Linked DNA regions of Homo sapiens. The protein of the gene in region 6 interacts with the protein of the main gene of each other region in a pairwise test. Each region holds a gene or a part of one and is shown on either strand. Other genes may lie near its edges.

Region 1 (3,500 bases), on a different chromosome or scaffold from region 6:
ATCATGACACTGCACTCCAGCAAGGGCAACAGAGTGACAACCTGTCTCCGAAAACAGTAATAATAATTAAAACCGTTTACTTAAGGCCGGGCGCGGTGGCTCACACCTGTAATCCCAGCACTTTGGGAAGCCAAGGCGGGTGAATCACAAGGTCAAGAGATCGAGACCATCCTGGCTAACACGGTGAAACCCTGTCTCTACTAAAAAAATACAAAAAAAATTAGCTGGGTGTGGTGGTGGGTGCCTGTAGTACCAGCTACTCAGGAGGCTGAGGCAGGAGAATGGCGTGAACCCGGGAGGCAGAGCTTGCAGTGAGCCGAGATTGCACCACTGCACTCCAGCCTGGGCAACAGAGTGAGACTCCATCTCAAAAACAAATAAATAAATAAATAAATAAATAAATAAAATAAACAATTTACTTAAAAGTAGGCTGGGTGTGGTGGCTCACACCTGTACTCCCAGCACTTTGGGAAGCCGAGGCCGAGACTGGGGTCAGGAGTTTGAGACCAGCCTGGCCAACAGGGTGAAACCCCATCTCTACTAAAAATACAAAAATCAGTAGGGCATGGTGGTGTGCACCTGTAATCCCAGCTACTCAGGGGGCTGAAACAGAAGAATCACTTGAACCCAGAAGGCAGAGGTTGCAGTGAGTTGAGATCACACCACTGCACCCCAGCCTGGGCAACAGAGGGAGACTCCGTTTCAAAAAAACTTACTAAAAAGTCAAAAAAAGCAAATGATGGTATGACCAATATATCCTACTGGCTGTATACCAATACCTACCATTGGAAATTTTTTTTTTCCCCCTTTTTGGTTTTTTGAGACAGGGTCTCTGTTGCCCAGGCTGGAGTGCAGTGGCATGATCACAGGTCATTGCAGCCTTGACCTCCTGGGACCACAGGTGCACGCTGCCTGGCTAATCTGTTACTTTTTGGTACAGATGGGGTCTATGTTTCCCAGGCTGGTTTCAATCAATCCTTGCACCTCAGCCTACCAAAGTGCTGGGACTACAGGTGTGAGCAACCACACCCTGCCAAAAGTATCTTTTAAAAGACAACAAAATGCAAAGTCTCCTATTAATTAGATAGTACAAAATAATTATGCCCCCAGAAAAGGATTCAAATCACAACAGAGAAACCCAGAAAGAAATGTAGAAAGTTTTAGGACAAGGGTTAATTCCTACGCCAATCAAAAAGAATGCTTATCTATAGAAGTTTCTCCATTATATTTAAAAACTATATTAATAAGACTATATTCTAAGCAACCTACAGCAATGCAATTTTATAATTTAACGTATTTATTAAACAAGGCAATTGTACAAATGGAAACATTTCCTAGTGTCTACTGGCACTCGAAATCACTGTTACTAATGGATTATAAACCATCTTCCTCTAATGATGTATCTTTACTGTAAAGTTTCTGGAAAACATCTATAAATAAGTTATAGTGGTCACCTACCATAATTGGTACATTTTGACGGCAAGAATTAGGTAACCTACGATGTCAGTTTAATGATTCTTTTTCATAATGTTAAAAAATGGATGACACCACTAGCTAAATTCTGCAGTGGTCCCTCAGCACATACGGGGGACTGATTCCAGGAACCCATACCAAAATCCATGAATGCTCAACTCTCTTAAATAGCATAGTGTTTGCACATAACCTACGAACATTCTCTCATACACTGGTGTGTTGTTTTTTTTTTTTATTGGGTTTTTTGGGAGTATCTTCAATCCTCAGCTAGCTGAAACTGTGAATGCAGGACCCACAGTAGAGAGAGCCCACTGTATTAGCTTTCTGTAGTTATGATACCTCATTGCTTACTGGATCATTCTGCATTTTCACTTACTGCTACTTTATTGCTACTTGGCAAAAATATTCTACTCTTTTATAGGAGATTAAAGGATTTTGGGACAGGCAAGGTGGCTCATGCCAGTAATCCTTGCACTTTGGGAAGCCGAGGTAGGAGGACTGCTTGAGACCATGAGTTCAAGACCAACCTGCCAGGCACAGTGGCTCATGCCTGTCATCCCAGCACTTTGGGAGGCCAAGGCGGGCAGATTACTTGAGGTCTGGAGTTCAAGACCGGCCTGGCCAACATAACCCCATCTCTACCAAATATACAAAAATTAGTCAGGTGTGGTGGTACGCGCCTATTATCCCAGCTACTCGGGTGGCTGAGGCAGGAGAATTGCCTGAGCCCAGGAGGCAGAGATTACAGTGAGCCAAGATCATGCCCACACACTCCAGCGTGGGTGACAGAGACTTTGTCTCAAAAAACAAATCATAAAAACAAACTAAAGGATTTCTAAGGTACCTCTTTCTAGAGCTCTAAAATGCCCCTCCCCTCAAATTGAACTGCTGAAACTAAAATTTTGACAACTCAAAGGTTACCAGTAAATCTGAATTCCCTCTAAAACACAAAGCACTCTTTTATGAAGAGAAAAATCAGACATGATTTGAAAATATCTAAATTCTCAAATTCTCTTTGTAAAGGCTTATATTCTTTCAAGTAACATAATTTTGTACTGTTTAACTTCCATCATACTCAATTATGCAAACCAGTGGGGAATATTCACACAACATAGAAAAGGAAGACTTGGCCGGGTGCAGTGGCACACGTCTGCAATCCCAGCACTTTGCGGGGCTGAGGCAGGCATATCTTCTGAGGTCAAGAGTTCATGACCAGCCTGGCCAACATGGTGAAACCCTGTCTCTACTAAAAATACAAAATTTAGCCAGGTGTGGTGATAAATGCCTGTAATCCCAGCTACCGGAGAGGCTGAGGCAGGAGAATCGCTTGAACCTGGGAGGCGGAGGTTGCAGTGAGCCAAGATCGCACCATGGCACTCCTGCTGTCTAGGTGACAGAGTGAGATTCTATCTCCCAAAAAAAAAAAAAAAAAAAAAAAGAAAAGGAAGACTTATGAGTTTTATTTTTCTCTTTAAGGCTTGCTTAAAGTGATAAACCTCATGGTAAAGGAAGGGGTAAAACTCAGGAGGGAGGGAAAAAAAAATGAGTCTGAAGATTTTAAGTTTGTCTGGAATTACCCACAGGATACGTAAGCCAGATAAAGCAAATTTAACAAACATGGCATAGTGAGCTATCTTGTACAAAAGTTCTCCCCAGTCGTGTTGCTTGATACATTCTATGGGTTTAAATTAGCCCCCAACTCTTCAACTATAAAATGCAGAAACCACTTCTGTCACAGAACTTAATAAAACTAGTTTAAAGGACTTACATAAACTATAATTTAAAATATTAAAATTTCTTTCTAGCCAGGCGTGGTGGCTCACGTCTAAAATCCCAGGACTTTGGGAGGCCGAAGCGAGTGGATCACCGGAGGTCAGGAGTTCGAGACCAGCCTGGCCAACATGGCGAAACCCCATCTCTACTAAAAATATAAAAATTAGCCTGAGCGTGGTGGCAGGCGCCTATAATCCTAGCTACTCGGGAGGCTGAGGCAGGAGAATCACTTGAACCTGAGGGGTGGAGGTTGC
Region 2 (3,500 bases), on a different chromosome or scaffold from region 6:
GGTGTCTGCCTCTGTATCTCCCCAAGGGCGTCTGGATGTCTCAGTGTCTGGTTGGAGCTCTTTCCTCTCTTAGGTGTATCTTCCCAGGTGTCTCCAAGTGTCTTAGAAGGCTTGTGTCTTGTGTATGTCTGGTCTGTCAGGGTGTCCGGCTCCTCCCGAGTGTGTCTGGGTGTGTTAGGCGGTGCGGCCGTCTCTTTCTGTGGGTGTGTGGGTGCCTCGGAGTGTCTGGGAGAATCTTCCTGATGGTGTCTGGCGTATCAGGTGTATTTCTGCACGTGTGTGCCAGTCCATCAGAGGATCTGGACTTACCCTTGAATGTGTTTAGGAATATCGGGATCCTCGGGGTCAGTTTCTCTTCCTGAGTCCGAGGGTCTGTGTGTACCCAGGAGCGTGGCAGTGCCCACCTGGCTGTGTCTCTTCCTGTCTGTCTCCTGTGTGTGTTTGTGTGTATCTAGCTGAGTGATTCTCCCTGAGTATGTCGGTATCTCCCCGCTATGTGTCCAAGCATCTCATCTGGCTGTGTCTTCCCCAGGGTCTAGGTGTATCTGGAGGGCTAATTGTTTCTTTCTTTTTTTCTTTTTTCTTTTTCTTTTTCTTTTTTTTTTTTGAGACGGAGTCTTGCTCTGTCGCCCAGGCTGGAGTGCAGTGGCGCGATCTCACTGCAAGCTCCGCCTCCTGGGTTCACGCCATTCTCCTGCCTCAGCCTCCCGAGTAGCTGGGACTACAGGCGCCTGCCACTACGCCCAGCTAATTTTTTGTATTTTTAGTAGAGACGGGGTTTCACCGTGTTAGCCAGGATGGTCTCGATCTCCTGACCTCATGATCTGCCCGCCTCGGCCTCCCAAAGTGCTGGGATTACAGGCGTGAGCCACCGCACCCGGCCTCTTTCTTTCTTTCTCTTTCTTTCTTTCTTTCTCTTTCTTTCTCTCTCTCTCTTTTTCTTTTCTTTCCTTCCTTCCTTTCTTTCTTTCTTTCCTTCCTTCTTTCTTTCTTTCTCTCTCTTTCTTTTTCTTTTCTTTCCCTCCTTCCTTCCTTCTTCCTTTCTTTTTTTTTTTCACCCAGTTTGGAGTGCAGTGGCACGATCTCGGCTCACTGCAACCTCCGCATCCCGGGTTCAAGTGATTCTCTGCCTCAACCTCCTGAGTAGCTGGGATTACAGGCATGTGCCCCTACACCCGGCTAATTTTTGTATTTTTTTTTTTTTAAGTAGAGATGAGGTTTTACCATGTTGGCCAGGCTGGTCTCAAACTCCTGACCTCAAGTGATCCACCCGCCTCAGCCTCCTAAAGTGTTGGGATTACAGGTGTGAGCCAACGCGCCTGGCCAGCTAATTGTCTCTGAGCATTTCTGAGTGTACCCATGGGTCCAGCTATGTCTCCTCCCTGTGTCTGGGTGTCTCCAAGGATCTGGCTATACCTCTTTGAGTCTCTAGGCTGTATCTGAGAGTGTGGCTTATGCCTGTAATTCCAGCACTTTGGAAGGCCGAGGCAGAGGATCGCTTGAACTCAGGAGTTTGAGACCAGCCTGATTAACACGATGAAACCCCATCTCTACCAAAAATACAAAAATTAGCCCAGTGTGGTAGCATGCCAGCTACTCTGCCTGTAGTCCCAGCTACTCAGGAGGCTGAGGTGGGAGGATCACTTGAGCCTGGGAGTCGCAGTGAGCTGAGATTGCGCCACTGCACTCCAACCTGGGTGACAGAGCGAGACCCTGTCTCAAAAAAAAAAGAAAAAAGACAGCATGGCTGGGCCTCTTCCTTCCCGCATCTGTCTCAGACGATCTGTCTGGATGTCCCCTGCGGGTGTCCCTGTGTCTCCTCTGCGAGTGTCTGGATCTGTCCATATTTGTCTGGGTATGTTTGAGAGTCGCTGTGTCTTCCCTGAGTAGGTCTGGGTGTGCCTGATGGCCTAACTGTGTCTTTTTCTGAGGCTTTCTGGTGTATCCAAAGTTCTGACCGTGTCTCCTGCTGTGCATCCCAGGGCATCTGAGGGCGTGACTGGGTCTCCCCAGAGTCTGGGCCTCCCTCCTAGGGCATGTGGTTAAATCCTTGCCTCTGCAGCCTCTTCCCTCCTGCAAAGAGCATGGTCCCCCCACCTGCATAGTTTGAGGAGTCCTCCGGGGTCAACTTCCCCATCTGACCCCCCCATGGCCCTGTCCCCAGACTGTGAAGCACCCCTGAAGAAGGAGGGTGGCCTCCCGGAAGGGCCGGTCCTCGAGGCTCTACTGTGTGCAGAGACGGGGGAGAAGAAGATTGAGCTGAAGGAGGAGGAGACCATTATGGACTGTCAGGTGGGCCCACCTCTGGGGGACCCCCGCTGCATGGCTTCGTCTCACCCCTGCCTGCCACCAGCCCGGGCCCTCACGTTCCTGCTCTGAAACCCCCCCGGTTTCTTCTGGCTGTTGGGCATCCCAGTCACCATCCTCCCAGACTTCATCTCTATTTGGAAGAACTCCTGACTTATACTCTCACCCCCAATCTCCACCTTTGCCCAGAGCCCCTCAAAAGCAGGTCAGTGGCCCCCACTTTCTTGACCCGTCTCCTTTCTCTATTGCCCAGAAACAGCAGTTGCTGGAGTTTCCGCATGACCTCGAGGTGGAAGACTTGGAGGATGACATTCCCAGGAGGAAGAACAGGGCCAAAGGAAAGGTATCACCCCAAGCTTCTCCTCTTCCCCGCTCCCCTCAATGACAGGTCTCATTCATGGAGCAGGTGCAGTGGTCCGCCCCTGCCACAGTCTGACCTCAGTCTGACCTCATTGAATCCCCAGAGCGGCCTGCAGGGGTGGGGGATTTTATACCCATTTTACAGATGAGGAAACTGAGGCTCATCTGTATTAAGCCATTTGCAAAGCAGAGATTATGCAGTGGGTTAGAGCTACCTTCATCCCCATGCCACAGAGGAAGAAGCTGAACCTTGGAGAGGTTCAAGGCCCCACAGCTAGGACATTTGTACAGCTGCAATTTGAATTTGCAAAAGACACTGTTTTCTCACTTTCTTTTTTCTTTTTTTTCTTTTTTTTGAGACGGAGTCTCGCTCTGTCACAGGCTAGAGTGCAGTGGCGCAATATCTGCTCACTGCAACCTCCGCCTCCCGGGTTCAAGCGATTCTCCTGCCTCAGCCTCCCGAGTAGCTGGGACTACAGGCACGCGCCACCATGCCCAGCTAATTTTTCTATTTTTAGTAGAGACGGGGCTTCACCATGTTGGCCAAGGTGGTCTCGATCTCTTGACCTCGTGATCCGCCTGCCTCGGCCTCCCAAAGTGCTGGGATTACAGGTGTGAGCCACCACGCCTGGCCTGTTTTCTCACTTTCTTGGCCCCTCACTCCTGACTCTCCCCACAGGCATATGGCATCGGGGGTCTCCGGAAACGCCAGGACACCGCTTCCCTGGAGGACCGAGACAAGCCGTATGTCTGTGATAGTGAGTCCTTCTGAAGAGGGGGAAAGGCAGAGAGAGGGGTGCCCAGAGACTCCCCACCTCGTGGCCCTCTCCCTC
Region 3 (3,500 bases), on a different chromosome or scaffold from region 6:
CTTCACTGTGAAAAGCATCAGTGTCCTTAAAAAAAGAATTTCAAAAGGCTAGGGTACAGTGGCACTTTGGGAGGCCAACGCAGGAGGATCACTTGAGTCCAGAAGTTCAAAACCAGCCTGGGCAACAAAATGAGACCCTACCTCCAAAAAAATAAAAAAAGCATCAGTGTCCCAAGCTGAGTATCAGTTCAGACAATGCCCAATGGCAGTGACTGCCTTTGCCTAAGATACAGGACAGTATTTTCCCAAAGTGGATTCTGCAGAATGTTCGTAGCTATCATCTCAAAAAAAAAAAACAATGTGGGTCAAATACATGTTTGGAATACATTGTATGTGACAAAGAATAAGTTTTAAAAAATAAGATGAAATTCAGTTCTGACCTTACTGATTCCCAATTCGCAGATATATTTCCACACTTCATGTGATGAGGCAAATGAACTATTTCTTTGTATCATTGGGTTCTGTTTGCTTTCTCGTGCTGTTTCTGCCTATAAGGATTGAAACATAAGAAATGTAAATAAGAATATTGGTGTGTTTTCTGAATACACTTTATACTGAGTCAAACCAACAACAGAACATATTTAGTTAAGTAAAAATTCCCAATTTCAGGTTTTTAATTCCTATAAAATATGATAAATAGATTAAAATCCTTTGTGAAAAACTTTTTACAAGAGGGTTTGCAGTGATGTTTCCTCAATCATACCTCACCTTGGACTGTAGGAATTTAAAACACTGTTGGTTAAGCACCTCTACAAATTCAGATTCAAAATCCTGGTCACTGTACCAGGCTCCACCAGTCACAGACCGGTCTGGCTGCAGGTTATAGAGCATATACACCTTCTTTTTTGAGGCCTAGGAAAGAACATGCACAGTTCATGTGTTTATAAGATAACAATTTCCAAAAACAAAAACACCTATATTTTGGAACAGTTTAAGATGTACAAAATTATTGCAAAGATAGTACACAGAGCTCCTATATACATCATGCTGTTTCCCCTATTTTTAACATCTTGGATTAGTGTGGTACACTTGTCACAATTAATGAACTAATATTGATAAATCATTACTAACTAAATGCCATACTTTATTCAGATTTCATTAGTCCTAATGTTCCTTTTCTGCTCCAGGATTCCATCCAGGACATCATACTACATTTAGTCATCTCTCTCAGGCTTCTTTTAGTTGTGACAGTTTCTCAAACACCGTATTTCTATCACTATGGACTCATGAGTATTTATTTTATACTTTGATTTACATTCAGATACTTCATTGTTATTCCCACACTGGAAGCTTTGGAATGCTTTGGGCATTGGAAGCTTTTCACTTGGTTCCTGTATCCCTTTGCTATGCTCCCATCGTGTGTGTGTGTATTTTAGCACTTTTTTTTTTCTTTTGGAGACAGGGTCTTGCACTGTCGCCCAGGCTGGCGTGCACTGGTGCAATCTTGGTTCACTGCAACCTCTGCCTCTTGGGTTCAAGTGATTCTCCTGCCTCAGCCTCCCGAGTAGCTGGGGCTACAGGCATGTGCCACCATGCCCAGCTAATTTTTGTATTTTTAGCAGAGACGGGGGTGTCACCATGTTGGCCAGGATGGTCTCGATCTCTTGACCTCGTGATCCTCCCGCCTCAGCCTCCCAAAGTGCTGGGATTACAGGCATGAGCCCCCGTGTCCAGCTATTGTAGCACTTTCTTACTTTCTAGCACTACAAGATGTCAAGAGCATTTTCTTTTCTTTTTTTTTTTGAAACGGAGTTTCGCTCTTGTTGCCAGGCTGGAGTGCAATGGCACACGATCTCAGCTTACTGCAACCTCCACCTCCCAGGTTCAAGCGATTCTCCTGTCTCAGCCTCCCGAGTAGCTGGGATTACAGGCGCCCGTCACTATGCCCAGCTAATTTTTTTGTATTTTCAGTAGAGATGGGGTTTCACCATGTTGGCCAAGCTGGTCTCTAATTCCTGACCTCAGGTGATCCACCCTCCTTGGCCTCCCAAAGTGCTGGGATTACAGGCATGAACCACCCTGCCCAGCCGTCAGGAGCATTTTCTACATGTTCATTTTATTGCATGATAGAAACCACGACTTGGGCACTAGATGTGTTCATTGCCATCGGGATGTCATCACTTCTAGGCCTTCTCAGTTGGCAGCACGAGATTTATGTGCGCATATTAACCCTTGTATATATACATAGCTATACTCAATATTTCTAAATATAACCATCTATATTATTTATATTAAATTACACAAGAGTCCATACTGATGTTTTCAAGTCTAATCCATTACTACATGGATCATTCTAACTTTCCTTGTTTGTCTGTAACTACTCACCCCAACACTGAGGAACCCAAATTTCACTGGGTTGTAAACATGAAGAATTTGGGCCAGGCATGGTGGCTTATGCCTGTAATCCCAGCACTTTGGGAGGCTGAGGTGGGCAGATCTTTAAGTCTAGGAGTTCAAGACAGGCCTGGGTAACATAGTAAAACCCTGTCTCTACAAAAATACAAAAATTAGCTGAGCATGGTGGCACGTGCCTATAGTCCCAGCTACTTGGAAGGCTGTGGTGGGAGGATGGCTTGAGCCCAGGAGGTTGATGCTGCAGTGAGCTGTGATTGTGCCACTGCACTCCAGTCTGGGTGACAGAGCCAGACCATGTCTCAAAAAAAAAAAAAAAGAAAAAAATTTGGCTAGACTTTGTCCCTTTTTCCTAGGAAATAACTTCTACATCTTTGGAATTTCCCAATAGGCCTTGTTATTCATGGTGAATCCCTTAGATCACACCTGGGTTTATGCTAACAAGGTGACTCCTGATAGGACTCTAAATAGTTTCAGGATAGGAGTTGTCCATGCTGGAAAGACCAACCGCATGATTAGAGGGTTGGGGCTTTGGGCCACATGACATCAGTCCAATCTCTTGGGAGAAGAGAGGAGCTGGAGATTGAATTCACTCACATGACCAAGGATTCAATCAATCATGCCTGTATAATGAAACCCTAATAAAAACTTTGGACAGCAAAGCTTGGGTGGGCTTCCAAATTTGGTTAATGCTTCTGTCATACAAAATAATTTCACCACCCTAGAAATATTTCTCATGCTTCACCTATTCAACTTTCCCTACCATCCCTGCCCTCACCCCGATCTTTTTAGTCTGTCTAGTTTTGCCTTTTCCAGTATGTCATATAGTTGTAATCATACAGTATGTAGCCTTTTCGGACTGGCTTCTTTTACTTAGCAATATGCATTTAAGATTTACTCATATCTTTTCATGATAGCTTATTTCTTTTTATAACTGAATACTATTCTGGTTTGTCTATCCATTCACCTATTGAAGGATACCTTGGTTGCTTCCAGTTTTTGATTATGAATAAAGCTGCTGATTACGAATAAAGCTGCTATAAATATTCATGTAGTTATGTGGACATGAGTTTTCAAATCAGTTGGGTAAATACTTAAGAGCTTGACCTTTGGACAATGTGGTAAGACTCTGTTTAGTTTTGTAAAAA
Region 4 (3,500 bases), on a different chromosome or scaffold from region 6:
TTCTGATGTCAGGCTCTTGGCTGAATGATCTCTGGTAGGATCCCTGACAGCAGTTTGTATGGAAGATGGGCCCTACAAAACGGTCACCTTACTGAGACAACCAAGTCAGATGTTCCCCAATTACCTGTGGACAGGTCAGGCATATTCTGAGTCTAATTTCACTCCACAGGCCTAATACCTTGGAGCCAGAAAGCTTCCAGGTAAAAAGTCTGAAGGGGGCCTCCTCATGTCATTAGATGGACTCCTGCATCTCCAGAAGATTTTCCACACCAGGAAAGATCAAAGCACCAAGGCAATTCTTCCTGGCTTCTTGGGACAACCCTAGGCTTTGGCATGAGTGGTCTGGAAGCCTTTGCTTTAGTTACAATGCCTATACACTCCTGGAACTGTTTTGCAGGGCTTGTCTTCCAGCACAATTCCTCCTCCAAGCCTTACTGTAGCTACAGCCCATCAGTCCTGTCTAGTGACAACCAAGAAACTAAGAACTATGTACTCACGTTCACCTCCCCAGAGTCATTTTCCTTCAGGACAAAGCTCAGGGCCTTGTCACTGGGCCCTGCCAGGAGCCGCAGCCGCAGGGGCTGCTCATCATCCAACAGCTTCCGCAAGTACACTGTGAAGGGGAAGTAATGATCAGAGACAGGGCCAGCTGCTCAGCCCCTGCATGCTCAGGTGCATGCGTATATACCCTCACATAGGGCAGGGTGGGGTGGGAAGCCCACCTTGGCCGTGACGCTCAGCGCGCTCAAAGAGTGCAAACTTGCGGGGGTCATCCACCACCAAGAACTTTCGCAGCAGGGCCTCAATGACTTCACGTGCCCTTGTGCGTGACAGCACATGCAGGTGCTTGACAGCATCCTTGGGCAGGTAAAAGGAAGTGCGGCGCCTGACACTTGTGCCCCGTCCTGGGCCCCGCCGGGCATCCTGCAAGGAGGGTGGCTTCTTGCTGGAGGGCACAGAGACAGGGCGCACCAGCTTCAGCTGAACCTTGATGAAGCCTGTGTAAGAACCGTCCTTGTTCTAAAGAAATAGAGAAACCAAACCTTGATAATAGGTTCCAGGTGAGATGTCAGTCTACTTGGGGCTAGGCTGGGTATGCACAAATTACTGCTTGCGCCCACCCAAGATAACCTCAGTTGTGACCCTCTGAGTATCAGGCACATAGCTGGGTACCTGCTCCTCCCCACGCCCCCTTCCTGAGCAGTCAACTCACCAAGCTCATGAAGAGGTTGCTGTTGATCTGGGCATTGTACTCCTTGATCTTCTGCTCAATCTCAGCTTGAGAAAGGTCAGGTGTCTCCCACTCCACAGGCTCGTCCTGCAAGATGGGCCAGCATGGACACAGGGCCCTTGAGGAACCCAGGGCTTCTCTGAAAAATGGCCTCTGGGGCAGTCTTTGGAAACTGACTGCCTTTGGCCCCCTGTCCCTGATGTACATATACATAGCTGGTGCCCACCCTGAACCCACCACTGCTCCTGGTTTTGCATGCTCTGGGTGGATAAGGGAAAGACAGAATCATTTGGCTTCTCTCTGCTGCCTGCCTAGGGCCTCAGCACTGAATGTAGCCTTAAGGATACCACAGAAGCAGGGGCAACTGAAGGCACATGGCCAGGGGCCAGGAACAGCTGAGGGACTCTGAAGAGGGACTCTCATTTAAAGTAAAATCAGGCTGGGTGTGGTGGCTCACATCTGCAATCCCAGCATTTTGGGAGGCTAAGGTAGGAGGATCACTTGATCCTCAGGAGTTTGAGACCAGCTTGGGCAACATAGCAAGACCTCATCTCTACTAAAAAAAGAAAAAAAAAAATTAGCCAGGTGTGGTGGTGTGCCTGTAGTCCCAACTGTTCAGGAGGCTGAGGTGGGAGGATCGTTTGAGCCCGGGAGATTGCAGCTACAGTAAGCTATTATCGTGTCACTGCACTCCAGCCTGGGGAACTGAGTGAGACCCTGCTTCAAAACACAAAAAACAAAAACAGGCTGGGCACGTTGGCTCACGCCTGTAATTCTAGCACTTTGGGAGGCCGAGGCGGGTGGATCACCTGAGGTCAGGAGTTTGAGACCAGCCTGACCAACATGGAGAAACCCCGTCTCTACTAAAAATACAAAATTAGCCAGGCGTGGTGGCACATGCCTGTAATCCCAGCTACTTAGGAGGCTGAGGCAGGAGAATTGCTCAAACTCGGGAGGTGGAGGTTGCAGTGAACTGAGATCGTGCCATCGCACTCCAGCCTGGGCAACAAGAGCGAAACTCGGTCTCAAAAAAAAAAAAAATCAGTAAAATCACACCTCAATTGCACATTCTGATCACAGCACCCTAGTTGAGTTGGAGTGAGGGTTTGTCCTGGAGAAGGCAGCCCATTTTTCTCCTCTGCCCCGGCACGGGGCCATGACCCACTGCAGGGTGAGAGGAGTGGAGAGTGGTGCACATCAGTAGTCCAGCCACCAGTGGACAGAGTAGTACTTGGAGCCAGTTCTCCATGTCTCACACATAGTGAGAAAAATCACTGTGACATGATGTTTAACCTTGACCCAAGCTGCATAAAAGGCAGCTTTAGGCCAGGCTCCAATCTGCCAGAGGTACACAGGCAGCTTCCTGGTGGGTTTCTGCACCTGCCTGTGCTGTCTGGAGATTTGGCCCAAAGATTTTTTTTTTTTTTGAGACGAAGCCTCACTCTGTCGCCCAGGCTGTAGTGCAGTGGCTGGATCTTGGCTCACTGCAAGTTCTGCCTCCTGGGTTCAAGCGATTCTCCTGCCTCAGACTCCCGAGTAGCTGGGACTACAGGCGCGTGCCACAACAACACCCGGCTAATTTTTGTATTTTTAGTAGAGATGGGATTTCACCACATTGGCCAGGTTGGTCTTGAACTCCTGACCTCAAGTGATCCGCCTGCCTTCACCTCCCAAAGTGCTGGGATTACAGGCGTGAACCATCGTACCCGACCCAGAGATTTTTAACTCGACCACTCACTCCCCACCTCATCTAGGGACTGGATTCTTGCCGGAAGGGTGGAGTGTGGGACAGGGCAGCCAGGGCTCTGAACCGACTTTCTTCTCCCAGACTCCCTTGGCCCCACTGCATCAGCCTTACTTCCTGTTGACGTCAGATAGGCCCTAGTTAGAATGCGAGTGTCACAGACACAGCTAAGCTCAGCGCTGACCAATACTTTGTCCCAGAAGAATTCCCACAAGGTTTCCTGTAGAATGATCTTGTGCCTAGCCCAGGAGAGCCAGGGTTCTCCCTGACTCCGCCCTGGAGTCCCCTTAAGCACTTAAACCATCTGATGGGGACAAATGGAGAGGACAGATGAGGGAGCAGGGTGGAGCGTTTTAGCAGAATGCTCCTTACCCAGAACCCGCTGCTATTCTGCAGCCAGCAAGGATGTGGGGCTAAGAACTAAGGCCAGGGCCTTACAGGAAAAAGGTAAAGGGGGAGGGGTGGGAATTTAAGCTCATTTTCTTCCCCAAGTATCCAAAGGTCTCCTGGATGGAGAAGAGCACT
Region 5 (3,500 bases), on a different chromosome or scaffold from region 6:
AGGACAGAGACATGATCTTGAAGGACTCCAACTCTAAAATACTTCACCAAGTCAAGTCCTGTAAACAATGTGTTTACCTGCCTAGATTTTGAGACCAAAATGCCTAAGAACAAAACAAAACTAACCAAACTGAGTGCCTCGTATTAGAAATGTGGACAATTAGTGGAATCCTACAGTATATTCCTAAATTCCTTGTGGAATTTTAGAAGTTTAATATCCTACTATCTTAACATTTTGGTAACTTGGAGTTCAGAGATCACTAATTCGAACGTTGGTGCCACTAGCTGAATAATACAATGTTTCTTCATGTCCACAGAGGTCATTTTTCATTTATCCCAGGATCCAAAATTAGAATACCTCTGTGCAATATAAAATTGCACACTAAGAAATTTACTTGTAAAGTTTCACATATAGTTTATTTCTATTGAACTTCAGTTATTGAAAGTAAGAATTGAACACACACACACCTCTGCACCCACATGTTTTTATTTACCAAAGACCCTACAGTGAGGTGAAGGGGATCTTTACATCTAACAGGTTCAACCTCTTTCTAGCTGGAAAGAAGCAAAAGCTGGAACAGCTATGATATGCACATATTTTTCCCATGTGGCCTTTCTCTATGCCTTTGTCTCCCCACACACGTAGACATACTCATGCTGTCCAAAGTTGGCAGTGGAACTCTACCTGACAGCTATTGAGGTGCCGTGGAATAAGGCCTGGGCATCGAGATGTACCCACAGAGAACACCAGATCCAGCGAAAACTGCCCTGATTTTCAGGGGATGAAATGTAGCTCTGCAACTCCAGAAGTTCAATCATCTAACAGTTGTGTAGGGTTTTTTTGTTTTTTTGTGTTTTTTTTTTTTACTCATGGTTTTTGCGGCCTGGATTAAAAGAAAAAGGAATCAAATCATATCTACTTAGAGCAGCACCTAGGAATTATATAGACCTCTTTGAAACCTAGAGACTACTCCAAACCTTCTAAAACTGTATTTTGGTTGTTTTTCTTTCTTTCTTTCTTTCTTTTTTTTTTTTTTTTTTTTTTTTTTTTGAGACAGAGTCTCACTCTGTTGCCCAGGCTGGAGTGCAGTGGCACAATCTTGGGTCACTGCAAGCTCCGCCTCCCAGGTTGACACCATTCTCCTGCCTCAGCCTCCCGAGTATAGTACAGTCCTGGGACTATAGGTGCCCACCACCATGCCTGGCTAATTTTTTTGTGTTTTTAATAGAGACAGGGTTTCTCCATGTTAGCCAGGATGGTCTCGATCTCCTGACCTCGTGATCCGCCTGCCTCGGCCTCCCAAAGTGCTGGGATTACAGGCGTGAGCCACCACGCCCAGCCGGTTGTTTTCCTTAATATATTTATGGTGTAGGACTCCCTCCTTCCAAAACACCAGGGAACCTTCTGAGAGCAGTTTCCTGTGCCACCTAGATAATCTCACCAGGAAATCTCTGCAGAATCTTTTTTTGTTCTATATTGTGTCCTCCATTACTAACCCACCTGGTGGTTGCAGTTGACTTTTTTTTTTAGGGGTGGGGCATTGTTTTTGACTAGGGGAAAGAAGACTTTTTTACATTTAAGTAATAGAGGCACAAAAAATTATTATCTTTTCAGAAGTTAATGTGTCCTGGAAAATCTCTTGGCAGCCTCTGTCTTTTTAAAAATTATTTGGTGTTTTTTTAAATTATTATGTTGGGAGCAGGGGTGGGCCTGTGACCCAGGGGCCAGAGGATTAGCACGGATGTATGCTGATGTTAACCCAAGGAGTGGTCAGGCACAGCAGCTGGCAGTCGGCACCATGCTCTCTGCCAGTTAGTCTAGAGGCACATATGAAGGTGCCATGAATGCATTGTGGTTTTTGTTTGCTTCTTTGTTTTTGGGATGGAGTTTCGCTCTTGTCGCCCAGGCTGGAGTGCAATGGCATGGTCTTGGCTCACTGCAACCTCTGCCTCCTGGGTTCAAGAGATTCTCCTGCCTCAGCCTCCCGAGTACCAGGGATTACAGGTGCCCACCATCTTGCCTGGCTAATTTTTGTGATTTTAGTAGAGACAGGTTTCGCCATGTTGACCAGGCTGGTCTCGAACTCCTGACCTCAAGTGATTCGCCTGCCTCGGCCTCCAAAAGTGCTGGGATTACAGGCATGAGCCACCACACCTGGCTAAATGTATCGTGTTCTAAACCTGCTTCATTCACTTTGGCTGTGACTGGAGACAACAAACATTTTGGGAAATAAATCATGCTCATGTCATAGACATGTGGAGTCTCAGCATGGACCCCAATCTCTTTCCACTTTAAGGTTTTGGAGATACTAGATCTGCAGCCTTCATTAGCCAGCCAAGGGGGTTCCCTAGTGGAGAAAGAGATTGGCTGTAAAAATGCCGTGAGTCACTAGTTTGACTGTGTCAAAGCCTGTGAGGCAGCTTTTGTTTTCACCTTTTCCTCCAAATGTTTGCTTCTTGTCTGATTGACAGGAGGCCCTAAAACTCATGACTGGTGGTCACTGAGCTCTCACCCTGCTTGGCTATTGTAGATAGGCAATACTAAACTGGGGAATGCAGCTACAGGGCAATAGTATTACTTACCTGGTATAGATCCAGCCTTCATGTTTTTCTGACATGTACCAAGTTAACATTAGAGAAACATTCCAAAAGGTATTAATAAAATGAAAAGTTTTACCAAAAGCAATGAAAGTTCACTGCTATGGTCTAAATGTTTGTCCTCCCCACCCCAAAATGCATATGTCGAAACCTAATCCCCAAGGTGATGGTATTAGGAGGTAAGGCCATTGGGAGGCGATTAGGTCATGAGACCAGAGCCCTCATGAATGAGATTAGTGCCCTTGTAAAAGAGACCCCAGAGGACTAGCTCACCCTTTCTATCATATGAGGACACAGCAAGAAGGTACTATCTATGAGCCAGAAGGCTGGCCCTCAGCAGACACTGAACCTGCCAGCACCCTGCGCTTGGACTTCCCAGCCTCCAGAACTGTAAGAAATGAATTCCTATTGTTTATAAGCCATTCTGTTTATGGCGTTTTGTTATAGCAGCCTGAACAGGCTAAGACACTCACATCATGTCTGTATTTTATGATTGATTTGAGGGCATCCTTAGAAAACTAAATATAATTGACTAAAATTGAATGTGGACTAAATGTTAATAATATTTTATCAGTGTTAAATTCTGTGAGTTTGGTATTTGTGTTGTGGTTGTTAGACAACATCCTTGACCTTAGAAGATACATGCTGAGGTATGTAGGTATACAGGTGTAAAGGGTTACAATATCTGCCACTCACTCTCAAAGAGTTCAGCAAAATGGTAACTGTAATATTGTGAGAGAGAGAAAGTTTGAACAAATATTAACAATGATAGAATCTATGTGAAGGATATGCAGGTGTTTGTTGTACAATTCTTGCAACTTTTATGTAAATGTGAAAGTTTTCAAAATATAAAGTTTTAAAAAAGCAAAGCACAACACTTCCTCATAAGGGTCAAACACTGGA
Region 6 (3,500 bases):
TCCTGAGTAGCTGTGATTACAGGTGTGCCCCACCACACCCGGCTAATTTTCGTATTTTTAATAGAGGCAGGGTTTCACCATGTTGGCCAGACTGGTCTCAAACTCCTGACACCTCAAGTGATCCACCTGCCTTGGCCTCCCAAAGTGCAGGGATTACAGGTGTGAGCCACCGCACCCAGCTTTTTTTTTTTTTTTTTTTAAGACTGAGTCTCCTTCTGTCGCCCAGGCTGGAGTGCAATGGCTCGATCTCTGCTCACTGCAACCTCTGTCTCCTGGGTTCAAGCGATTCTCGTGCCTCAGCCTCCCAAGTAGCTGGGATTACAGGCACGCACCACCAAGCCTGGCTAATTTTTTGTAGTTTTAGCAGAGACAGGGTTTCGCCCTGTTGGCCAGGCTGGTCTTGAACTCCTGACCTCAAGTGATCCGCCTGCCTCGGCCTCCCAAAGTGCTGGGATTACAGCCATGAGCCACCATGCCCAGTCGCTTTTTTTTTTTTTTTTTTTTTTTGAGATGTAGTTTTACTCTTGTTACCCAGACTGGAGTGCAATGGCGCAATCTTGGCTCACTGCAACCTCTGCCTCCCGGGTTCAAGAGATTCTCCTGAGTAGATGGGATTACAAGCATGCGCCACCACACCCGGCTAATTTTGTATTTTTAGTAGAGAGGGGGTTTCTCCATGTTGGTCAGGCTGGTCTCAAACTCCTGACCTCAGGTGATCCGCCGACCTCAGCCTCCCAAAGTGCTAGGATTACAGGCGTGAGCCACCGCACCAGCAGCTTTTAAAAAATTTTACCCCCTAGTAATGAAATCTCTCAACAGCTAACATAAGAAACAAAGCATACGCTACCCTTCAAAACTCCACTTATTCCTACACTTCAGCACGTATTATGAATATTTGTATCTTAAATACTTCCACAGTAGACAGTTCAGACATACACACACACAAACCATAACACAAATAGTTTTACACATACATTTAAAACTAAATAAATCACCTCATGTGATTTAAATGAGAAAAATGAACTATTGACTTTTTTTCTTTTTCTCAAATGCTACCACAAGAATTCTCGCAAGCTATCAGCCCCAAGTCTATCTTTTTGAGTATTTTGTGATAGCTGATAGGTAGGAAAGTCATCCTGGATGACATGTTAGTTCCCATTCATGTCACCCTTAGGTAATAGATATGATCCTTAAAGGCCTTAGTTCCCCTTTAAATATTTCATCTTGGATTTGTTCCACATTGATTTGTCCAAACCAATTGTGAGGTATTTACCTATCAACAGAAGAGCTGCATCCATCACTGCTGCACCGTTCAGCATAGTAGCCATCAAAATATCGTGGCCAGGACAGTCAACAAAGGAAACATGTCTAATGATTGAGAAATAACAATCAGCCTTAACATAAATCACTACTTACACATGCTAGTTTTAGATTTTTTAAAGTTAAATCAACTTAGGAAATAATCTTATTGCTATAAAATGGTTACAGGGCTTGTCGTTTCTAGAACTTGGAAATAAGTTCACCAGCTGATGAAAACCACTGCAGATTACAAAGCAAATTAAATTAGTTATGTGCAGAATGGAAGATAAACTCCAAAATCCAATGAAAATGAATATGGTATAGAATAATGGTGGAGAGTATATACTGAGAATGTCATTGATTTGAAAGCTAAAACTTATAATGACTTATAAAAACCACGTTAACAGAATGAGAATTTGAAAAAACAATTTTCTGGCTGGGCGCAATGGCTCACACCTGTAATCCCAGCACTTTGGGAGGCCAAGGCAGGTGGATCACCTGAGGTCAGGAGTTTGAGACCAGCCTGACCAACGTGGTGAAACCCGGTCTCTAATAAAAATACAAAATTAGCCACATGTAGCTGGTGCATGCCTGTAATCCCAGCTACTTGGGAGGCTGAGGCAGGAGAATCGCTTGAACCCAGGAGGTGGAGGTTGCAATGCGCCAAGATAGCACCATGGCATTCCAGCCTGGGCAACAAGAGTGAAACTCCGTCTCAAAAAAAAAAGAGAAAAAAAAAAACAATTTTCCAAAAATACCTCTAACACCTTGAAAAACTAGAATTGCCCATTTGAAGCAGAGATGGCAGCACTTTTAACAAAACTATGGTATTCATTCAGAGTCACAATTGTTTTTTTAATCGCATGCTCACATTGTCATGATCTAAAACAGAGGTCAGCCCTTAGGCCAAATCTGGCCCACCACCATACCTATTTACACACGTATTGTCTACGTTTGCTTCTGTAATAGAAGAACAGAATCAACAGAAACTCTATGGCTTGCAAAGCTGAAAATATTTACTACCTAGCCCTTTGTGGAAAAAGTTTGCTGATCCCCTATTAAAGGCCAGGACTACAGTGAGACAAGTGCAAAATTTAAGAGACTGCCAAAAAACTCAGTAATCAAGGAAAATGGCCGGGCATGGAGGCTCATGCCTGTAATCCCAGCACTTTGGGAGGCTGAGGCGGGCAGATCACTTGAGGCCAGGAGTTCGAGACCAGCCTATACAACATGGCAAAAGCCCACCTCTACTAAAAATATAAAAACTAGGCCGGGCACAGTGGCTCACGCCTGTAATCCCAGCACTTTGGGAGGCCGAGGCGGACGGATCACAAGGTCAAGAGATCGAGACCATCCTGGCCAACATGGTAAAACCCCGTCTCTACCACTGCACTCCAGTCTGGCGACACAGAAAGACTCCGTCTCAAAAATAAATAAATAAATAAATAAAAATAAAAACTAGCTGGGCATGGGGGCTCACGCCTGTAATCCCAGCTACTCGGGAGGCTGAGGCAGGAGAATTGCTTGAACCCAGAAGTGGAAGCTGCAGTGAGCCAAGATCGCACCACTGCACTCCAACCTGGGCAACAGAGACTGTCTCAAAAAAAAAAAAAAAAAAAAGAAAGAAAAAAAAATATATGCATTCAGTATTTTTAAAAAGTCGAAATTAATGCAAAAAATCAATCATAAACAAAATACAATGCCATGCTGAGCCAAAGCAAAAGGGGAAAAAAATTTAGTAATAGAGTCTGCCCTTATTTAAAATTCTGATTTATCACATTTTTTGCATTAATTTAAAAAAAACACTGCATTAAAATATTTATCCTAATTACTGAGTTTTCTGGCATACCTGCCACCGCCAGGCCCACTTACATTTTGGGCTTGAGGTGAAGGCCTCACTTGTCCCTCCCTGGTCCCAGCCCTGCCCCAATCTAAACATTCCTTGTAGGGCATCTCCAATCCCCATAAACATCACTAGACAGGTGTCAGTATCCTGATAAAAAAACAGGTATGCAATCATATTCAGAAAACAGATGGGGAACAAGTTCAAGTGTTTTAGAGAAGTAATTAGAAATGGCTCTGTTTCTCTCCTATTTAACATACAGAAACAGCGCTGTTTAAAAGAAATTCAGGAAGCCTAGAAAAAGAATCCCTTCAATCCAATGAGTTGTTTTTCTGTTTTGTTTAAGTGATACTTTTAG
Region 7 (3,500 bases), on a different chromosome or scaffold from region 6:
GTGTAGAAGAGGCTACAAGTATTGGAAAGTACTGGTATAACTGGTCTCAACCATTTTTGGAGATTGCCAGTACAAAGGAATATAACTTACTTCCTGTATGAATCATATACCAAAGGCAATTGCTTTCCTCATTGTTGATGAACTACTGTAACAGAAAAGGTCTGCTTATAGTGGAATGTTTTCTGTTACCCTGTGCAACTTCTGTGGCATTTAAGTTATACAGATCTGCTCTACTATGATTTTATTAAATAGGAAATGCCCTTAATATTTAAAATTCTCTCTCCTGTCTCCCCTAAGAAAATTATCACAATGTAGTTTCAGTTATTTCTGTTTTCCTTTGGAAAACCAAAAACACTACAAAATAAAATTCATATGAAATGTAAGTTATCAATTATTTACATTTTTTGAACACTTAGACAAGATTTTGAAAATCAGCTTTGTCTCATATCCTTCCTGCTTTTCCACTAACCTGGCACATATTTCGATTAGTGTCTCTAGTCAATACCTTTAGCCAAAGAGAAAAACTAATACATTAAAACAACTAGGCTAGGCGCAGTGGCCCACGCCTGTAATCCCAGCACTTTGGGAGACTGAGGCAGGAGGATCGCTTGAGTCCAGGAGTTTGAGACCAGCCTGGGCAACATGGTAAAACCCCATCTCTACATAAAAATACAAAAATTGGCCAGGCTTGGCTGTGCTCAAAGCAGGAGGATCACTTGAGCCCAGAAGGCGGAGGTTGCAGTTGGAGCCGAAATCATGCCAACGCACTCCAGCCTGGGTGACAGAGCAAGATCTTCTTAAAAAAAAAAAAAACCCACAACTACACAAACCAATATATCAGAGTCACCAATGGATTTTTAATTTATCATTTTGCCTTGATTTCCTTTATTTCCCTTTTATGCCACTAATAAAATTTTCAAGTTTAATTTTACTCCCTGAAAATGAGGGTATCTTTCTCATATCTAGCCAGTTTCCCCACCTACCTATATCCAAATTACAGGAAGATGAGGCTGTCTTCAAGATATATTTTTCCCAAAGCTGTGGGTTCCCAGTTTCTTCTGATAACCACATAGCTGTGGGTTCCTGCAACACTGCCCACCTCCACCACATTTCCCACTCTCATCTTGCCCCAGGTGGAGCGGGGCAAATGCTGGCATGTTCTACAGCCACAGTGAGGCTTCCATGGGTGACAGAAAGGGGAGCGTGTGATAAAAGGCCCTCGAATGGCCTCCTGGGAGGGGCCATCATTGCACAGCACACTGTCAGCCCTGGAGTCAGTAGCCAATAATGCATTTTCCTATGGTTCTCTACTTTCCTGGCTTGGAGTGGTGTTTGAAGGGACCACTTGGAGGAAGTACTTGGAAAGCAGGCACGGTTGGTACCTCATGCTGGAGAGACTTGCACATTTCCCGGACTTTGTGCTTGTCCATCTCCCACTGCTCCACAAAGAAAGTGTGAACCAATTTTATCCTGCAAACCAGAAACAGGAACTGAATGGGCCTCTAACCAGACCTCTGAAACAGGAAGTAGGGCACAGTTCTTATAGCCACCAGAGGGGAACTGCCCTATAAACAGAGAACTCCCAAAAGGCTGGCTCCAGCCAAGGCCACGGGTGAGACAAGCCTGTGTTATGCGCTTATATAATGCACAGGCTTCACCCAGAGATGGAACCAGCTCGAACTACCAACTGATAATGTCTCAAGCAGACAACAGGTGACCAAATTAAGGAAAGAAACCAGGATCCTGGCAGCCCAGGAAGCAGAGCCGGTCATGACAACATGCAGCTGATGATGTGGGGTAAGAAATTGGTACTCTAAAAACTAATTTTGTGCTCTGGAGTTTTCTTTTTGATTTTGCTTTTTTCCGTCCGATTTTCTAGTTAAGCTCTTTTAAAAAAATTATAGTTTTGCCTTAATTGACCCATTATCCAAGAAAGCAAGAAGCAGCAGTGCTGTCAGTTTGTGTGCGGTGGGTGGCAGCTGCTACAATGGTGTGCCAGGGAACGTGAACAGCTCAGAGAAAAACCATGTGTTGGACACCACTGGGATTTTTTTAAAAAATCCTTCCCTAACTAGAGTTTTCCCTTATGAGTTTATCTACGTTTGCTCTTTTGATAATTTTACTAAGGTTCGTTTCTCACGTGAAGCAGTGGCTGAAAGGTGGGAAGGGGCTGCAGGGCGGTTCCAATCAGAGGCTCTCAAACACAACTCTGTTGACTGGTGTGATAAAGTTTTCACTCATCCTTGGAGAAATGGGAAAAATAAATAACAAGTCATGAGTTTTTGCACACATTTTCTGTATGTGAAGATCTGCCCTTCATTCTAAGGTTATGTCCCCCACTAATTTTTTTTTAACATAAAACTTTCCTTTTTAAGAAATCATGGCAATAGGTGGCTGGTTGTTGATTTTCTTGTCTCTCTGTCTCTCTTTCTCTCTCTCGATTTTCCTCACTTTCTCTACTTATAATACTCTTACTTGGAAAAATTTAAATGTTGGCAAACACATGTCAGTCCTCCAAATTTTTTTAACTGGTTCGTGGGAACCACTATTTAGGACATACAGACTTTACTCTCTCCTTCAAAATATATGAGACAATATACTCGGAAAGTATATTGAAAGTAGAAATGCAGAAGTGGGCTGGACAATTTTCAAGAACTTCTCCATCTGGGATAGATGGGATACAAGGTTATGTTCTGTTTTGTTTTATTGTTTTACCAAATAAGATTAGAAGTCCTAAGGAGCTTTGCTGGAAGCAAGTTGGAGCCAAAGCCTGGCAAGGTCAGATGCCTCTCCAGCAAGATGGCATATTAACACATGGGCGACTTTTGTCACAAGCTCAAGTAAAGTGGGAACATACCATGGATGAGAATAGAAAAGCTAAGTTCTTACAATTTTAACTAGCATGTGCTTCCTTCCTGTTACCTATGATTGCTACAGGGTGAAAGGCTGAGTAAGCGGTTGCAATCTGCAGTGAGCCAAGCTGAAAGGCCCGGGCGGATGTGAAGGCTGGTGGTAAGGAAATGGGAAGCAGGCAGCCAAGCTAACCCTGTGTCCACTGAAGGAGTGAGGTGGCCTTGAGCACAGCAGCATCCCTGGGTCTTACGTCGGCCAGAAGTAGAAAGGGAAGAAGCCTAAAGGAAGTGAAAGTGTTGCTGGATCTCCTGCTGGCATTGCCTCCTCCTTCACACAGCATCCCGGTTCTCCCTGCAGCCACCTGATCTTCCCTTTGTCCCCTTCCTCACCACAGCCCCACCACCTTCACCACTCCAAGTTGATGCTTCTCCTACATCTGGCCAAGATGCTACTCAGAGGTGGATGAAAGCAAAAGTCACTGCTCTAATACAAGAAAAGTCCCGGTTTTAGGTTTCAGAAACAGAATTTTCCCGAATGTTTAAAATGGTGAATGGTTCCATAAACTGTGTTAACCAGGCTTCTTACAGGCTAGTCCCAGAATCTGACCACCATGTGCAATACTGTTTCTAAGAAAAGTGTGCTCCAAG

Evidence for each region.
Region 1: the proteins of EIF2S3 (region 6) and SYNCRIP interact in binary tests that used the Homo sapiens proteins (3 or more experiments, as listed by UniProt).
Region 2: the proteins of EIF2S3 (region 6) and DPF1 interact in binary tests that used the Homo sapiens proteins (3 or more experiments, as listed by UniProt).
Region 3: the proteins of EIF2S3 (region 6) and POLR3F interact in binary tests that used the Homo sapiens proteins (3 or more experiments, as listed by UniProt).
Region 4: the proteins of EIF2S3 (region 6) and RASSF1 interact in binary tests that used the Homo sapiens proteins (3 or more experiments, as listed by UniProt).
Region 5: the proteins of EIF2S3 (region 6) and SPATS1 interact in binary tests that used the Homo sapiens proteins (3 or more experiments, as listed by UniProt).
Region 7: the proteins of EIF2S3 (region 6) and MAP3K5 interact in binary tests that used the Homo sapiens proteins (3 or more experiments, as listed by UniProt).

Annotation. Positions count from the first base shown.
Region 1 is NC_000006.12:85,632,887-85,636,386, forward strand, and holds part of SYNCRIP (heterogeneous nuclear ribonucleoprotein Q), read right to left. Parts: intron 1-3,500. UniProt on the Homo sapiens protein: Heterogenous nuclear ribonucleoprotein (hnRNP) implicated in mRNA processing mechanisms. Component of the CRD-mediated complex that promotes MYC mRNA stability.
Region 2 is NC_000019.10:38,217,723-38,221,222, reverse strand, and holds part of DPF1 (zinc finger protein neuro-d4), read left to right. Parts: intron 1-2,164; coding exon 2,165-2,292; intron 2,293-2,560; coding exon 2,561-2,650; intron 2,651-3,346; coding exon 3,347-3,425; intron 3,426-3,500. UniProt on the Homo sapiens protein: May have an important role in developing neurons by participating in regulation of cell survival, possibly as a neurospecific transcription factor. Belongs to the neuron-specific chromatin remodeling complex (nBAF complex).
Region 3 is NC_000020.11:18,477,390-18,480,889, reverse strand, and holds part of POLR3F (DNA-directed RNA polymerase III subunit RPC6), read right to left. Parts: intron 853-3,500; coding exon 709-852; intron 489-708; coding exon 381-488; intron 1-380. UniProt on the Homo sapiens protein: DNA-dependent RNA polymerase catalyzes the transcription of DNA into RNA using the four ribonucleoside triphosphates as substrates.
Region 4 is NC_000003.12:50,330,837-50,334,336, forward strand, and holds part of RASSF1 (ras association domain-containing protein 1), read right to left. Parts: intron 1,319-3,500; coding exon 1,214-1,318; intron 1,021-1,213; coding exon 723-1,020; intron 614-722; coding exon 498-613; intron 1-497. UniProt on the Homo sapiens protein: Potential tumor suppressor. Required for death receptor-dependent apoptosis. Mediates activation of STK3/MST2 and STK4/MST1 during Fas-induced apoptosis by preventing their dephosphorylation.
Region 5 is NC_000006.12:44,377,150-44,380,649, reverse strand, and holds the end of SPATS1 (spermatogenesis-associated serine-rich protein 1), read right to left. Parts: 3' UTR 471-3,500; downstream 1-470.
Region 6 is NC_000023.11:24,057,956-24,061,455, reverse strand, and holds part of EIF2S3 (eukaryotic translation initiation factor 2 subunit 3), read right to left. Parts: intron 1,369-3,500; coding exon 1,274-1,368; intron 1-1,273. UniProt on the Homo sapiens protein: Member of the eIF2 complex that functions in the early steps of protein synthesis by forming a ternary complex with GTP and initiator tRNA.
Region 7 is NC_000006.12:136,782,478-136,785,977, forward strand, and holds part of MAP3K5 (mitogen-activated protein kinase kinase kinase 5), read right to left. Parts: exon of another isoform or gene 2,938-3,500; intron 1,798-2,937; exon of another isoform or gene 1,570-1,797; intron 1-1,569. UniProt on the Homo sapiens protein: Serine/threonine kinase which acts as an essential component of the MAP kinase signal transduction pathway. Plays an important role in the cascades of cellular responses evoked by changes in the environment.